Linked DNA regions of Homo sapiens: region 2 is linked to region 1. Evidence: fine-mapped expression QTL. Tissue or cell type: whole blood. Region 1 holds a variant in brackets; the other region holds the start of a gene. All regions are shown on one strand. Distances are from middle to middle.

Evidence for each region. PIP is the estimated chance that this variant, and not a neighbour inherited with it, causes the effect.
Region 2: COLGALT1 starts here. The variant in region 1 is fine-mapped to the expression of COLGALT1 in whole blood (TOPMed, PIP above 0.99).

Annotation. Positions count from the first base shown.
Region 1 is chr19:17,574,077-17,582,250 of GRCh38, reverse strand. It overlaps COLGALT1 (collagen beta(1-O)galactosyltransferase 1), which reads right to left. Exons shown (of 12, transcript NM_024656.4): 7 at 4,980-5,056; 8 at 4,784-4,890; 9 at 4,162-4,294; 10 at 2,642-2,769; 11 at 1,346-1,552; 12 at 1-1,074. The coding sequence ends at 807. Among named protein-coding and RNA genes, the nearest start is that of COLGALT1, 23 kb to the right of the region's middle. RefSeq lists enhancers at 2,017-2,311, 2,146-2,355. The variant G/C (reference allele first, on the strand shown) is at 3,318.
Region 2 is chr19:17,551,997-17,560,170 of GRCh38, reverse strand. COLGALT1 (collagen beta(1-O)galactosyltransferase 1) reads right to left here and starts at 4,522. Exons shown (of 12, transcript NM_024656.4): 1 at 4,198-4,522; 2 at 750-860. The coding sequence starts at 4,457. NIBAN3 (niban apoptosis regulator 3) reads right to left here. Exons shown (of 15, transcript NM_001321827.2): 15 at 6,531-8,174. RefSeq lists a silencer at 4,355-4,444.

The DNA of each region.
Region 1 (8,174 bases):
TGGATAGAAGCATCTTATTTATCTCAATATTCCCAGAGCCTGGGCTGGGCACAGTGGCTCATGCCTGTAACCCTAGCACTTTGGGTGGCCAAGGCGGGCAGATCACTTGAGGTCAGGAGTTCGAGACCAGCCTGGCCAACATGGTGAAACCCCGTCTCTACTAAAAATACAAAAACTAGCCAGATGTGATGGCACGCACCTATAGTCCCAGCTACTTGGGAGGCCGAGAAACAAGAATTGCTGGACGCTGGGAGGCGCAGGCTGCAGTGAGCCGTCACACCACTGCACTCCAGCCTGGGTGACAGAGACAGACTCTACTCTTAAAAAAAAAAAAAAAAAAATCCCAGAGCCTGGAATGGCACCCAACACACAGTAGGCACTCAATAAATCCTTGAATGAATTTTAAAAATGAATGTGTATCACTAGTGCCTGATTCTTAATCTGATCAGTAACTGCTTGATGACTGAATCAATCGCTGATGGAGGGAACAATTATGCCTCATTCACTGCCGTAACATGGGAACCTTGCATACAGCAGGTGCTTAATAAATGCTGGGCACATGAACAGATGAAGAGGGCTTGGTTCCTCCCAATTCCCCAGGGCCAAGCCCTGTTGCTGGCATGCAGTAGGCACTCCATTAATGCTGCCTGTGTGCACGTGATTGCTTAGCAAGAGCTGGCTGGACACCACCCCACACGAGAGCCCTCTGTGGCCTGCCAAGGGGTCCAGAGGTGGACCTGATGTCCTCAGTAAGCACGTGGAGCCTGGGCCACCGATGGCTGCTTTGGCTTTCTGGCTGCTACCCCTCAGAGTTCATCCCGGGCAGCACTGTCCAGTGGGGACTGGAGCACGTCCGAGTTCTTGGCCTCACGGCTCAGTGCCTGCTGCTCCCGCATCTTCTGGGACTTGGCGCGGTCCCAGTCGGTCTTGACGTGCTCATTGTTCCATACGACTGAGGTCTCGGTGTCACTCACATAGCCATCGTCTCCTGTGTAGTGTGTGGGGTAGATGAGCAGCGGCTCCACAGAGAAGGCATGCAGGTTGCGGAGGGAGAAGTGGGCCTTGTACTCGGACCTGGGGGGAGGAGGAGGGGAGTGAGGGGCAGCAATGGCTTCAGGGGACGGGACAGCTGGAGGAAAAATTGGGGGTGAAGAAGTCAGCGGGGACAGATTAAAACGTAAGTGTGCAGGGGATACAAATGGAGACAGATCTGCGAGGGGGCAAACGGAGGGAGAAGTAGGCAAAAGAAGAGACATCTTCTCGGAGGCCGTGAGTCTCACATCCCCATTCTCCCAGGACAGACCCACCGTGAAACCCCAGCCCAGCAGCCGCCTGCCCCTCTCACACTGGGTGTTTGTCGAACATGACGGGCAGGAACTCGTCCACAGGCAGCATCTTGGAGAGCGGCTCAGCAGCCAGCAGTTTGCGGGCGCCTTGCAGGGAGATCACGTAGGCCAGGGTCCAGTAGGAATAGTCGGCCTCCACCAGGTTCCTCACGCGAGGCACAGCCTTCTCGGGGTGCTCCACCTGCATCCGCTTCCGGCCCACATAGCTGGGGTGCAAGATCGGGCCTGTCACTCTCCTCCCGCCCTCCGGAGGGAGCTTGCCCAGAAAGCCAGGGATCTAGTTACCCCGTCAGGTCCTGGGATGGGAGCAGGCTCAGCATGTTTGCAGAGCTCTGTGACTGGATGGAGTGAATGCAGGAGCCCAGGGGTCTGGCGGTCATGGGGGAGAAGAGTGAGTTTTTCCAAAGGGCGTGAGGGAGCCATGGAGGATCTGGAGCTGGGGAGAGCAGGATCACGCAGACGTTCTCTGAGGCTGAAGCTGCTCTGAGTTCAGAGGACAGTGGGGGTGGAGGTGGGCGAGGTGCCCTGATGGGGGGGCAGTCAGGAATGGAGGGGTGCAGTTACTATTCACATGGGGCAGTGTTCCCAGAATGCAGATTAGGGCACTGCACATGGAAGGGAAAAAAGAGATGGAGGAAGGGAGAGGACAAACCAGCCCACTTACAGAAGAGAAGGACGGCTCCAGTGCTGGAAACATGTTGGTGGCACTCCCATCCAGGGGCTTGTCTAAGACCAGGCGCCCTGGCCACGCCCCCACACTCTTCGGCCACACCTCCAGCTCTGACCACACCCCCATGCTCTTCAGCCACGCCCACAGGCTGCCCGGTCAAATTTTAGCCACATCCACCTCCACAGGCCTCAGTCAAGTCTCTAAGCCTTGACCAAGCCTGCAGGCTTCCGGCCAGGTCCCTTGAGTTCTGGGTGATCCTTCCAACGCCCTTCCCTATAGGCTACAGCCCTGACAGTGCCTTCAGGCCCAGGAACCACGTGAGCCCTCCTGCTACGCTTCCAAGGGTTGGCCACGCCTGCCACCCTGACCACACCCAGACATACAGGCTCTAGGCTCAGCTGCAGCGCTGTGGCCACGCCCGTAGGATTCAGCTCCACTCCGCCTCCCAGCCCCACCTCTAAGCCCTGGCCATGTACCTAGGCTCCAGTTCCACCCCACCTTCAAGCCCCGCCTCTAAGCCATGACCCATCCCCAGGTCCCAGCTCCACCCTGCCCCCACCCCCACCTCTAAGTCCTGGCCTTGCCCCAGGCCCCAGCTTCACCCCATCCTCAGACCCCCACTCACATGAGGTCCCAGTCCAGGCCCTCCCGCTCCACATCCCGCATGAGGTTCATCAGACGTCTCTTGAAGAAGATCTCAAAACGCAGGTCATCCTCAAACACAAGCGATTTCTGCAGCCCCCGGTCCACCACCTGAGGGAGGAAGCCCCGCCACATCACAGGGAGGCCAAGGCCAGGCCTGACCCTAAAGCACAGAGCTTTGCTTTGAGAAGGTTTGAAAGACCCGTAGAGAAGCCAGTGCATCTCCCTGCCTCTCCTAGCTCCAGGGACATCTGGACATCCAAACCTCTGCCCTCTGCCGTCCATAATGGATCTCAGAAGAGAAAGGCCTCCCAGCCCCTCAAATGCCCACGCCTCATGCACCTCCCGCCTTGCAGCCGCACACCCCCATTTGGCTTCACATTCGATAACAAGTTTTTCTTTTCTTTTTCTTTTTTTTTTTTTTTGAGACGGAGTCTCGCCCTGTCGCCCAGGCTGGAGTGCAGTGGAACGATCTCAACTGCAACCTCCGCCTCCCAGGTTCAAGTAATTCTGCCTCAGCCTCCTGAGCAGCTGGGATTACAGGCATGTGCCACTACGCCCGGATTTTATTTTTCTTTTTTTGAGATGGAGTGTCACTCTTGTCGCCCAGGCTGGAGTGCAATGGCATGATTTCAGCCCACTGCAACCTCTGCCTCCTG[G/C]GTTCAAGTGATTCTCCTGCCTCAGTCTCCCAAGTAGAGGGATTACAGGTGCCCACCACCACACCCAGATAATTTTTGTATTTTTAGTAGAGTCTAGGTTTCACCATGTTGGCCAGGCTGGTCTTGAACTCCTGACCTAAGGTGATCCGCCTGCCTCGGCCTCCCAAAGTGCTGAGATTACAGGCATGAGCCACCACGCCCAGCCATTTTTCTTTTTTCTGAGACACGGTTTTGCTCTGCTGTCCAGTCTGCAGTGCAGTGGCACGATCTTGGCTGACTGCAGCCTTAACTCCTGGGCTCAAGCCACTCTCCCACTTTAGCCTCCCAAATAGTTGGGACCACAGGTGTGCGCCACCATGCCCGGCCCTGATGGCCCAAGTTCGAAGCCTAGTCAGACACCCTCCTCCAATCACAGCCTCTCCCTCTGAGGGTGGATGAGGATGCCTGGGCTGGTGAGTGCCCCCAGCAGCACTGGGCAGGTGCTGGTTTAAAGTGGCTCTGTGGCCATGACTTCTAGTACTAAACATCAAGCACAGAGACCAGGCTGGGAGTAATGAGGATTTGTTTACAGGTCCCAGGCCCCAGACACCACCTGCTGCTCAAAAGGGCTCACCCCTACCCCCAGGCTCAGTTTCCACATTTGCGCAATGGAAGGATGGCAGGTACACCTGGGGGTGATACAGCTGGTGTGGCGCATCATTCACTAAAGAGAGGCCATGGGTCCCATGGCTGAGGCTGGATGCCTAGCCGGGGCTTTGGGGAACTCTTTCAACCCCTTTCCCGTCCAAATCTCCGATGAGATCTAGAGTCATAACTCTGGCCCCGCCCATCACTCAGGACACACCTCCTTCCAGATGTTGTAGTGGCTCAGGAAGCAGCCCAGCTCACCCTTGGTGAGGGGCCGGCCGTGGTAGGGGTCCCGGTAGCCAGGCAGCATCTGGATCCCCAGCGCCTCCACCTGGCTGGTGTTCATGGCTCTGGAGAGGAGGAGGAGAGGGTCACGAAGAAGGTTCACCCTGCCTGCCATTCTGCCATCCCCGGCCATTCCACCACCCCCTGCGGCGTTGAGCAGCTGGTCCACCTCTTGTAGCACTGGCACCCCTTCCGGGCACATGGGGCCTCACTCACCTGCACATGGTATACACTCGCGGGCAAACCTGCTCTCCTCCTCTCCTGGGGTCTGACTGACTTACCCCTCCACAGTCCCCACCAGTCTACACTGGCAGCATGCAAACCTACCCATTCCCCTGGGTCAGGACTCACTTGCCTTCCATGGTCTACAACTGTGAGGATCTGCCCCTTCCCCAGGGTCCCATTCACTTCCCCTTCAGGACGCCCACTGACGAGGTCTACATCTGTTTGGACACCACGCCCGCCCCCATCTGAATCACTTGCCGTCTACCAGCGAGGTCTACACCCACATCCACGTGCGGACCCGCCCCCCCACCCCCAGGCCTCGGACTCACTTGCCGTCCACGGCCTCCACCAGCCGGCACTCGATCTCCTGTGCCTGCAGCGCCCGCAGCATGCGCTCCCGCCGGTCCTGCCGCCGCCTCAGGTTGATCATGAAGACCTGCAGCCCGGAGAGTCCCCAGCCAGATCAGCCCCTGCAAACAAGGGCCCTCCAGCCCCCGCCCCGCCTCCAGGGAAGGCCCAGCTCACCTCGTCGAAGCCCATCTTGTCCGGTGTCTTGGTGGGAGCCGAGATGAAGCGGGAGGGCTCTGCGGGCGGGTGCTTCACTGTGGGGCACAGACGTTGAGGAGTCGCTGGGGTAAGGAGCCTCCAGCCTCTCTCCAACACGCTTTCCCCACCCACTCCATGGCTCCCAGTCAGACTGGCTCGGCCCACAAAGTCGACCTGGCTCCGCCCACATCAGCGCTGCCCTCTAGGAGCCCCTCCCATGTCATTTGAACCCTGCACAGCAGCCCAAAGCCCTGGCCACACCCCAGGCCCCAGCTTCACCCCGCCCCCAGTCCTGCCTCTCAGCCCTGGCCACACCCCAGGCCCCAGCTTCACCGCGCCCAAGGCCCCGCTACTCAACCCTGGACTCGCCCCAGGTCCCAGCCTCACCCTGCCCTTAGCCCCGCCTCTAAGCCCTGGCCACACCCCAGGCTACAGCTTCAACCTGCCCCCCAGCCGCACCACTCAGCCCTGGCCACGCCCCAGGCCCCAGCTTCACCCCACAGCCTCCCCCAGCCTTGCCTCTAAGCCCTGGCCATGCCCCAGGCTCCAACTTCACCCTGCACCCCCCCAGCCCCACCTTTAAACCCTGGCCATGCAACAGCTTCGCTCCGACCCCCAGCCCCGCTTCTAAGTCCTGGTCACACCCCAGGCCCCAGCTTCACCCTGCTCCCAGCCCCGACTCTCAGCCGTGGCCACGCCCTGGGCTCCAGCTTCACTCCGCCCCCAACCCTGCCTCTAAGCCCTGGCCACGCCCCATGCTCCAGCTTCACTCTACCCCCCAGCCCCACCTCTATGCCCCTGCCAACCCAAAGAACCCCCATTCCTACCTCAGGGCCTTTGCACATGCTGGATCCCTGCTTGAAATACCCTTCCTTTCCCTGCTCTGTAACGTTACTTCTCAGCTATGATGCCCTGGGCATGGGGGTCACCCTCCCCACTCCCACCTCCCTAGGCTGAGCCAGGCACCTCCTCTGGGCCCCAGCAGCACCTGGACTTGCACCACCAAAGCTCGCATCCTTGCTGCCCTAACCCCCTGGCCCTGTGCCTGTCTGTTGTGAGCCCTTTGGGAAGGACACCAGGTATGTCTGCTCACACTGGGCCCCTAGTGCCCAACACAGGGGCTTGGCACACAGCAGGCACTCAGTAATTGCTTGTAGAATGAACCAAGAAATGATGGCATGCTGTATATTCTTGATTGGCCTGGGCCTCAGCTTTCCTCATCTATAAAATGGGCCAATAAGCCACTGAGAGGTTTCACAAAGAGATGTCATGAGATCATGCACTATGTCATGGGGTGAACTGTGTCTCCCCAGTGCCAACCACCAGTACCCCAGGATATGATCCTATTTGGACACAGGGTTGTGTACAGAGGTCATCGAGTTAAAATGAGGTCATTAGGGTGGGCCCTAATCCACATGGCTTGTGTGCTTTTAAAAGGGGAAATCTGTAGCTCCTTGGGAGGCTGAGGCAGAAGGATTGCCCAGGAGTTCAAGGCTGCAGCGAGCTATGATGGTGACACTGCACTCCAGCCTGGGTGACAGAGACTCCATCTCCAAAAAAAGCAAAAAAGAAGGCCGGGCACAGTGGTTCATGCCTGTAATCCCAGCACTTTGGGAGGCTGAGGTGGGCAGATCATGAGGTCAGGAGTTCGAGACCAGCCTGGCCAACATACTGAAACCCTGTCCCCACTAAAAATACAAAAAACTAGCTGGGCGCAGTGGCTCATGCCTGTAATCCCAGCACTTTGGGAGGCCGAGGCAGGTGGCTCACAAGGTCAGGAGATCGAGGCCATCCAGGTTAACACAGTGAAACCCCATCTCCAATAAAAATACAAAAAATTAGCCGGATGTGGTAGCAGGCGCCTGTAGTCCCAGCTACTCGGGAGGCTGAGGCAGGAGAATGGCGTGAACCCAGGAAGCGGAGCTTGCAGTGAGCCGAGATCGGGCCACTGCACTCCAGCCTGGGAGACAGAGCGAGACTCCGTCTCAAAAAAAACAAACAAACAAAAAATAATAAAAATAAAAATACAAAAAATTAGCCAGGCGTGGTGGCAAGCGCCTGTTAAACTCAGCTACTTGGGAAGGTGGGGCAGAATCACTTGAACCTGGGAGGCGGAGGTTGCAGTGAGCCAAGATCGCACCATTGCACTCCAGCCCAGGCGACAGTGCAAGACTCCATCTCAAAAAAATAAAAACCAAAAAAACCAAAAACCTAAATTAACAAATTAGCTGAGCATGGTAGTGGCATGCACCTGTGGTCTCAGCTACTTAGGAGGCTGAGGTGGAAGGATCGCTTGAGTCAAGGAGGTTGAGGCTGCAGTGAGCTGTGATTTTGCCACTGCATTCCAGCCTGGGTAACAGCGAGACTCTGTCTCAAAAAAAGGAAATGACAACACAAATATATGTGAGAACTTAAACTGGGAAAACTCTGGTAGCCACAGAGACGCTTCTCAGGCCCGTTTCTGATGGGAGTTGGTGATAAATGGAGACCCACCACCCCCAACTGTAGCCGGGTGGGACCTGGACACCTAAGTATGCCACTCTTGGGTGTTGTGGGGGGCCTGCCCCAGTGATTGTGCAGTCTCCAGGTGTCACCTCAAAAAGACTCAAAAGTCTCCCCCAGGCCAGGCGCAGTGACACACGCCTGTAATCCCAGCATTCTGGGAGGCCGAGGCAGGTGGATCACCTGAGGACAGGAGTTCGAGGCCAGCCTGGCTAACATGGTGAAACCCCGTCTCTACTAAAAATACAAAATTTGCCAGGTGTGGTGGCAGGTACCTGTAATCCCAACTACTCGGGAGGCTGAGGCAGGGGAATCGCTTGAACCCAGGAGGCGGAGGTTTCAAGTGAGCCCAGAATGCGCCACTGCATTCCAGCCTGGGTGACAAAGTGAGACACCGTCTCAAAAAAAAAAAAAAAGTCTCCCCAAAACACAAAGGGCAGGGTGCTATTCCATCTTGAGCCACCAGGGGGAGCCGCAGATAGACTCGTTCAGAAATCGGTAAGGCTGGGGAAACTGAGCCCCGGGACAGAGGCCTCACCCCTCCCACCCAGTCTCCATCTACGCAGTGGTGGGAATGGCAGTGGCTTTGGCAGGGCTTTCTGCGCCCAGTGCAGGGCGAGGCCCACATTAGCAATGGCTGAGATGGGAGCATCATCCCTAGACAACCTCAAT
Region 2 (8,174 bases), 22 kb after region 1:
CGGAGGTACAGCCTGTGCAAAGGCCTGGAGGGAAGAAAGCCCGAGGCACACTGGAGGGAAGGAAGGAAGGAAGCTCAGTGGGGTCCAGTGCAGTGGCCCACGCCTGCGATCCCAGCACTTTGGGAGGCAGAGGTGGGAGGATCGCTTGAGGCCAGCACTTTGAGACCAGCCTGGGCAACACAGTGAGACCCTATCTCTACAAAAAATACAAAAACATTAGCTAGGCATGGTTACATGTGCCTGTAGTCCCAGCTACTCAGGAGGCTGAGGCGGGAGGATGGCTTGAGCCCAGGAGTTAAAGGCTGCAGTAAGCTGTGTTCACTCCACTGCACTCCAGCCTGGGTGAGGGAGTGAGACCCTGTCTCAAAAAAAAAACAAAAACCCAGAAAGGAACTGGGTGGGGGCAGGGAGTCCATGCTGCCCAGGGCTTTAGGGAGTAGATAAACAGCAAAGCCAGTGCTGGGACCAAGACTGAGTCAGTGAGCCAGGGAACAAAGCAGTGGGCGTCCCCAGAAGAAAAAGGGAGTGAAAGAATTCTAGGTACAGGGAACGGCTTGGGCAAAGGTCTGAGAAGAGGATTATGGCCTATTTGTAAAGCTGAGGGAGGCTCAGAGTAGCTTAATGCTGCCTGGCTGGGCTGGAGGCAGGGACTGAGGGCCTGTAATTGTTCTGGGGCAATGGGGAGCCATAGAGGGTGTGTGAGCAGAGGCAAAGCCCAATCAGACTAGGAGCAGGGGAAAGATGCTCACCTGGGCTCCTCTGCTGGCCGCCACTCCACGGAATGGTACAAACTCTTCACGGCCACCAGCCACTCCCGCAGCACAGTTGACGTGTTATCCATGTTGTGGTCCGTAGCCACCCTGCAGGGAGAGGGGACAGGCAGCGTACTTGGGGAGACTGAGGCAGGACCAGGCAGCAGTGAGGCAAGTCAAGGACCACCATCCCCAACTGGCCTCCCACCAGCTATGTATCCCTGGACAGGACACTTCTCCCTTTCCTTTGTTTTTTTTTGAGACAGAGTCTCGCTCTGTTGCCCAGGCTGGAGTGCAGTGGCGCGATCTCGGCTCACTGCAAGCTCCGCCTCCCGGGTTCACGCCTTCTCCTGTCTCAGCCTCCCAAGTAGCTGGGACTACAGGCGCCCGCCACCACACCCGGCTAATTTTTTTGTATTTTTAGTAGAGACGGGGTTTCACCATGTTGGCCAGGCTGGTCTCGATCTCCTGACCTCGTGATCCGCCCACCTTGGCCTCCCAAAGTGCTGGACTTAACAAGCGTGAGCCACCGCGCCCGGCCCATTTCTCCCTTTCCATGTCAGTTTCCTCATCTGTAACATGGGGGTGGGAACAGGACCCAGTTTACTGGGAAGTGGAAGGATTAAACAAGCTGATTTTGGAAAGACCCATTAGTGATTGGCTGTTTTATTACTGAGCATCTAAGATCTTGCAAACCACATTCACTAACAAATATGTGTCACTTAATTTTTTTTTTCTTTTGAGACAGAGTCTTGCTCTGTCACCCAGGCTAGAGTGCAGTGGCACAATCTTGGTTCACTGCAATCTCCGCCTACCAGGTCCAAGCAATTCTCCTGCCTCAGCCTCCCGAGTAGCTGGGATTACAGGTGCCCACCACCATGCCCAGCTAATTTTTGCATTTTTAGTAGAGATGGGGTTTCGCCATGTTGGCCAGGCTGCTCTCGAACTCCTGACCTCAGGTGATCCACCTGCCTCAGCCTCCCAAAGTGCTGGGATGACAGGAATGAGCCACCGCACACGGCAATTTTTGTAATGTATAGATCAGGCCAGGCACGGTGGCTCACGCCTGTCATCCCAGCACTTTGAGAGGCCGAGGCGGGTGTATCACCTGAGGTCAGGAGTTTGAGACCAGCCTGGCCAACATGGCGAAACCCCATCTCTACTAAAAATACAAAAATTAGGCCGGGCATGGTGGCTCACGCTTGTAATTCCAGCACTTTGGGAGGCCGAGGCGGGTGAATCACTTGAGGCCAGGAGTTTGAGCCTAGCCTGGCCAACATGGTGAAATCCCATCTCTACTAAAAACACAAAAAATTAGCTGGGTGTGGTGGCGGGCACCTGTAATCCCAGCTACTCAGGAGGCCGAGGCAGGAGAATCGCTTGAACCTGGGAGGAGGAGGTTGCAGTGAGCCGAGATCGTGCCACTGCACTCCAGCCTCAGCAACGAGAGCGAGACTCAGTCTCAAAAAATAAATAAATAAAAAATATTAAAAAATGAAATGTATATATCAGAAACCAGCTGGGTGCAATGGCTCACGCCTGTAATCCCAATATGTTGGGAGGCCGAGGTGGGCAGGTCACTTGAGCTCGGGAGTTCGAGACCAGCCTGGCCAATAGGGCAAAACCCCATCTCTAGAAAAAATACAAAAATTAGCTGGGCGCAGTGGCATACGCCTGTAGTCCCAGTTACTCAAGAAGCTGAGGCAGGAGAATCACTTGAGCCCAGGAGGGGGAAGTTGCAGTGAGCTAGGATTGCACCACTGCACTCCCGCCTGGGCGACAGATGTAAAACCCTGTATCAAAAAAAAAAGTATATCTCAGCAGGGCGCTGTGGCTCATGCCTGTAATCCCAGCACTTAGGGAGGCCGAGGCAGGCAGATCATGAGGTCAGGAGATCAACACAAGCCTGGCCACAATGGTGAAACCCTGACTCTATTAAAAATACAAAAATTAGCCAGGCATGGTGGTGCGCACCTGTAATCCCAAGCTACTCGGGAGGCTGAGGCAGGAGAATCACTTGAACCCGGAGGCGGAGGTTGCAATGAGCTGAGATCGTGTCACTGTACTCCAGCCTGGGCGACAGAGCAAGATTCCGTCTGAGAGAAAAAAAAAAGTATATCTCAAAGTATATCTCATAAATCCCTTACCCTGCCTTCATCTTCTCCTGTGAGCCACACCACTTCAGTGGGCTGCAGTCAATTATTCATTCAACAAACATTTGTTAAGTACCAATTGTGTATTTGGATTATCCAGACTGAGAAATCAGGTGGAAGGAAAAGCGACATTTGGGAGTTTAGTTTGACCGTAGTGCCAAAAGCTAATTCTGCCCAATAAATTAAGTTGACAATAACACCAGCAATGACAGTAATCATGATAATAAAATCACTGAGAGCCAAGCCCATGCCAGACCCAAGGGCTCCACATCCATTAACTGGATAATCTTCAGAGACAAACCCAAAAAGAGAATTATATTAATACGCTCATTTTCTTTTCTTTTTCTTTTTTTAGAGGCAGGTCTTACTCTGTAGCCCAGGCTGGAGTGCAGTGGTGCAATCATAGGTCACTGCAGCCTCGAACTCCTGGGCTCAAGCGATTCTCCTGCGTCAGCCTCCTGAATAGCTGGGACTACAGGCACACACCACCGCACCTGGCTAATTTTTGTATTTTTTTTCTAGAGACGGGGTTTTGCCATGTTGGCAAGGCTGGTGTCGAACTCCTGAGCTCAAGTGACCCGCTTACCTTGGCCTCCCAAATTGCTAGGATTACTGCGTGAGCCACTGCACCCGGACCCATTTTCCATTTGAGAAAACTGAGGCAGGGAGTGAGAAGTCACCAGTCAAAGGTTTCTTCAGAGCTCTGCCCCATTCCCTACCAAGAAAGCATCCACTTCCTCCTGGGCCATCTGGTCCTGGACTCCACCCACGCCGGTCTGAGGGCAGGGGTTTGACTGGGGCCTGGAGCCAGGCTGAGTTCAAGCTTAAGGGCAGCAGCCGGCACAGAAAGGCTTGCTGTTAGATGTGGCCTCTGGCAACGCCCCAGTGGGGGCTCTGGGCTCCGTCCTTTGGAGGTGTACGTGCCCCAGAGGGAGTTAGAGCCCCAGTTAGTGAGGCCGGAGCTGCCCTAGTAGGGTCCAGCAGGCAGAAGCGGTGCCCAGCCCACCCCAAAGGAGCCAGCAGGAGGAACTCGGTCCCGCTTGTGTTGTGGGGAGGGCTGTGTCTGGCCCCATGGGAGGACAGCAGGCAGGGGGCACGCGTGGACCCGTCCCGATGGGGGCAGCGGGCAGGGGCATGCGTAGAACCGTCCCGATGGGGGTAGCGAGCAGGAAGCACGCGCGGACCCGCCCAGAAGAGGACAGCGGGCAGGGGCTCGCGTGGACCCACCCCTATGGGGACAGCAAGCAGGGGCTCGCGTGACCCGCCTGATGGGGACAGCGGGCTCGACTCACCATAGCGCCGTGCGCTCCCGCGGGTGCCGCAGCCGCTCGAGTGCGCCCAGCGTGGTGGGCAACGCGTGGGCCGCGTTTCGCGCCAACAGCGCGATGAGCACGCGCGGCGCCTGCAGGGGCGACTCCGGGCTCCAGCGCTCCTCGGGGAAGTAGGCGTCGGCGCCCGGCGGGGCCCCCGGCGGCAGTGGCGCCAGCAGCAGAAGCAGCAGCGCCAGGAGCGGCTGCCCGCGCCGCCGGCCCGCGCGTGGGGCCGCCGCCATCGCGCCACGCGTCTCCTTTAAGTCGTTTTTCTGCGGGAGGACTCTGGCCGCGCCTTAAAGGGGTCATAGGGGCCCCGCCCGGCCGCGCGCCTTAAAGGGGAGGAGCGCGCCGGGCGTGAAGTCCAGGCCCCGCCTCCAGACGCTCTCCGAGTCCCAAGGCCCGGAGTGACGTCACCTGCAGCCCTACCCAGGACGCCCCGCCCCCGCACCGATCTTAAAGGCACATAGCGCTCGGAGCGCGTGGAAGGGATGTTAGGGGTAGCGTTAGGGTTAGGAACCCGCGCTTCCTCCAGGCGCCTCCTACCACTGAGACCTCCGCCAGATGCGCCGCCCAATTTCCCCATGTATAAAACCCGGGCTGTGCCACCAGGCGGACTTGGCTACTTAGGACCTGGTTTGGGACCCAAGAGACCTTAGCCTCAGTTTCCTCTGCTGCAACGTGGGTTTTGCCATCCTGGTTTTGGATCTCACAGGGATGTCATTGAGGGTTGTGGAGAATAAAGGTCATGACGTCCACAGACCTGGCGTCACATTCAGTCCCCGCCTTGGGCTTGCTATATGTGAGCCTCAGTCTGTCCATCTATAAAATGAGATCATAGAGACCCTATAGGGTTGGCGTGAAAATAGAGCCAGGGCATGATAATGGACCGTTCTGGGCACAAGCTCTTCCAGAGACAAGGGCCATGTTTTCATGGAAACGCTGTCAAGGGATTGTTTTCCAATACTCTAGAGCCGCATTTTCAAATTGATTGACTTAGTATCACACTTTTTTTTTTTTTTTTTTGAGACGGAGTCTGGCTTTGTTGCCCGGGCTGGAGTGCAGTGGTGCAACATAGCAAGACCGTGCCTCTATTTTTAAAAACAATAAAAACTTTAAAAAATACATCTGAACATTATTATTATTATTATTATTATTTTCTTTTTTTTTTTTTTTGAGACAGCGTCTCACTCCATTGCCCCGGCTAGAGTACAGTGGCGCGATCTCGGCTCACTGCAACCTCCGCCTCCCGGGTTCAAGCGATTCTCCTGCTTCAGCCTCCTGAGTAGCTGGGACTACAGGCACGCGCCACCACGCCCGGCTAATTTTTGTTTATAGTAGAGATGGGGTTTCACCATATTGGCCAGGCTGGTCTCGAACTCCTGACCTCCTGATCCGCCCACCTCAGCCTCCCAAAGTGCTGGGATTACAGGCGTGAGCCACCGCGCCCAGCTTATTATTATTTTCACAGAGAGGGTCTTACTCTGTGGCTCAGGCTAGAGTGCAGTGGCATGATCACATGATCATGGCTCACTGCAGCCTCAACCTCCTGGGCTCAACTGATCCTCCTGCCTCAGCCTCCCAAGTAGCTGGGACTACAAGTGCACTCAACCACGCCCAGCTAATTTTTAAATTTTTTGTAGAGATGGAGTCTCGCTATGTTGCCCCGGCTGTTCTCAAACTCCTGGTCTCAAGTAATCCTCCCCCTTCAGCCTCCCAAACTGCTGGGATTACCAGTGAGCCATCATGCCCCGCTAAAACTTAATTTTTAAGAATGATACAGGCCAGGTGCAGTGGCTCACGCCTGTAATCCCAGCATTTTGGGAGGCTGAGGCAGGCGGATCACTTGAGGTCAGGAGTTCGAGACCAGCTTGGTCAATATGGTGAAGCCCCCATCTCTTCTAAAAACACAAAAAATTAGCCGGTCATGGTGGCGCTTCGCCTGTAATCCCAGCTACTACGGAGGCCGAGGCAGGAGAATCACTTGAACCCAGGAGGTGGAGGTTGCAGTGAGCCAAAATCGCACCACTGCATTCCAGCCTGGGTGACAGAGTGAGACACCGTCTCAAAAAAAAAAAAAAAAAGGTAAAAACAAATTTACACTCTGTGGACTTGATGAGGAAAGGTCTTTTCATATTAAGTAAGAAAAAGGAGGTGACAAGATACATCCCATCCCATCTGGAAGGATTTAGACCCAAGGGCAAACAATGTTTTTCTCAAAAGGGGCAGGATGACAAATTCTTGTAGCTGCAATTGTTCCAGAATTAACATCTACATCCCGTCCGGGGTAAAAGGAAGACAGCTAAAGAAGCCTATGAAGTGCAAATGTATTGAGCAAATGTATTTCGGAAGGTGGGGTTGGAGGGAAATAGGTGGAAAGGTCAGGAATATCTCATTGTCTTGGGGTAGGCCGAAAACTCCAGACAGAATGGGAGGAAACGGTCTCCAGGGAGTGTGAAAGTCCCTCTGCAAGCTGAACCAAGAACACACGGGAATCCCTGTGGAACCCACTCCGGAAGCAGCTGCAAGACAGCAGAGAAGCTGCCAATATCCAGTTAGCAGATGACTTTGCTGGCAAGCAGAGGAAGTCGGTAAAAGCTTGTCTCCCAGCCAGGAAACTTGACACCAAGTTAAGATTTGGAGCTAGGAAACAAACCCAAAAGGCTCACAGCAAGCGGAGAAAAAAACCCCAAAATCTGTAACCTGTATCACAAAGCGTTCATATCCTTCAGATATAAAGAGTTATTAGATATCAATAAGAAAAATGCAAACACTCCTGAAAAGTAGAAAAAAGCTATGAACAGGCAATTCACTGAAATTAAAAAAAAAAAAACTACAAACATGTAAATGGCTAATCAACATATTTGGATTTTGTTTTTTGAGACAGGGTCTCACTCCCATCACCCAGGCTGGAGTGCAGTGGTGCAATCACCACTCACTGCAGCCTTGAGTTCCCAGGCTCAGGTAAATCTCCCATCTCAGCCCAGCTTCTTTTAAATTTTATTTATTTATTTATTTATTTATTTATTTATTTATTTATTTTATTTTTTAGTAGAGACAGGTTTCACCACATTGCCCAAGCTGGCCTCAAAACTCCTTGGCTCAAGCAATCCACCTGTCTCAGCCTCCCAAAGTGCTGGGATGACAGGCGTGAGCCACCACTCCCGGCCGCTAATTTTGTATTTTTTGTAGAGATGAGGTCTCACTATGTTCGCCAGGCTGGTCTTGAACTCCTGAGCTCAAGTGATCTGCCCGCCTCAGCCTCCCAAAGTGCTGGGATTACAGGTGTGCACTGCCACGCCTGGCCATAATAAACTTATTTGTAAGTTCAATTTAGTCAAAGAAATTCAAAATAAAATCATGAGATTTCTGTGTGTGTCTAACTGGCATAGCTTTTTTCTTTTCATGAAAAGTCCTAGTGTTTAGAAAGGATTTGGAGGCTGGACATAGTGGATCACTCCTATAATCCTAGCACTTTGGGAGGCCAAGGCAGGAGGATTGCTTGAGTCCAGGAGTTTGAGATCAGCCTGGGCAGCATAGCGAGACCTTGTCTCTATTATTTAAAAAAAAAAAATTAGGCCACGTGTGGTGGCTCACACCTGTAATCCCAGCACTTTGGGAGGCTGAGGGGGGCAGATCACTTAAGGACAGGAGTTCGAGACCAGCCTGGCCAACATGGTGAAACCCCATCTCTACTAAAAACACAAAAATTAACCAGGCATGGTGGCGGGTGCCTGAAATCTCAGCTACTCGGGAGGCTGAGGCAGGAGAATCGCTTGAACCCGGGAGGCGGAGGTTGCAGTGAGCCGAGATCCTGCCACTGCACTCCAGCCCGGGTGACAGAGCAAGACTCAGTCTCAAAAAAAAAAAAAAAATTAAAATAAAGAAAGCCTTGGGGAAAATACACAAATAAATGCTGCTGCTTGGAGTATAAAATGGTACAGTTTTCTGAAGTTGCA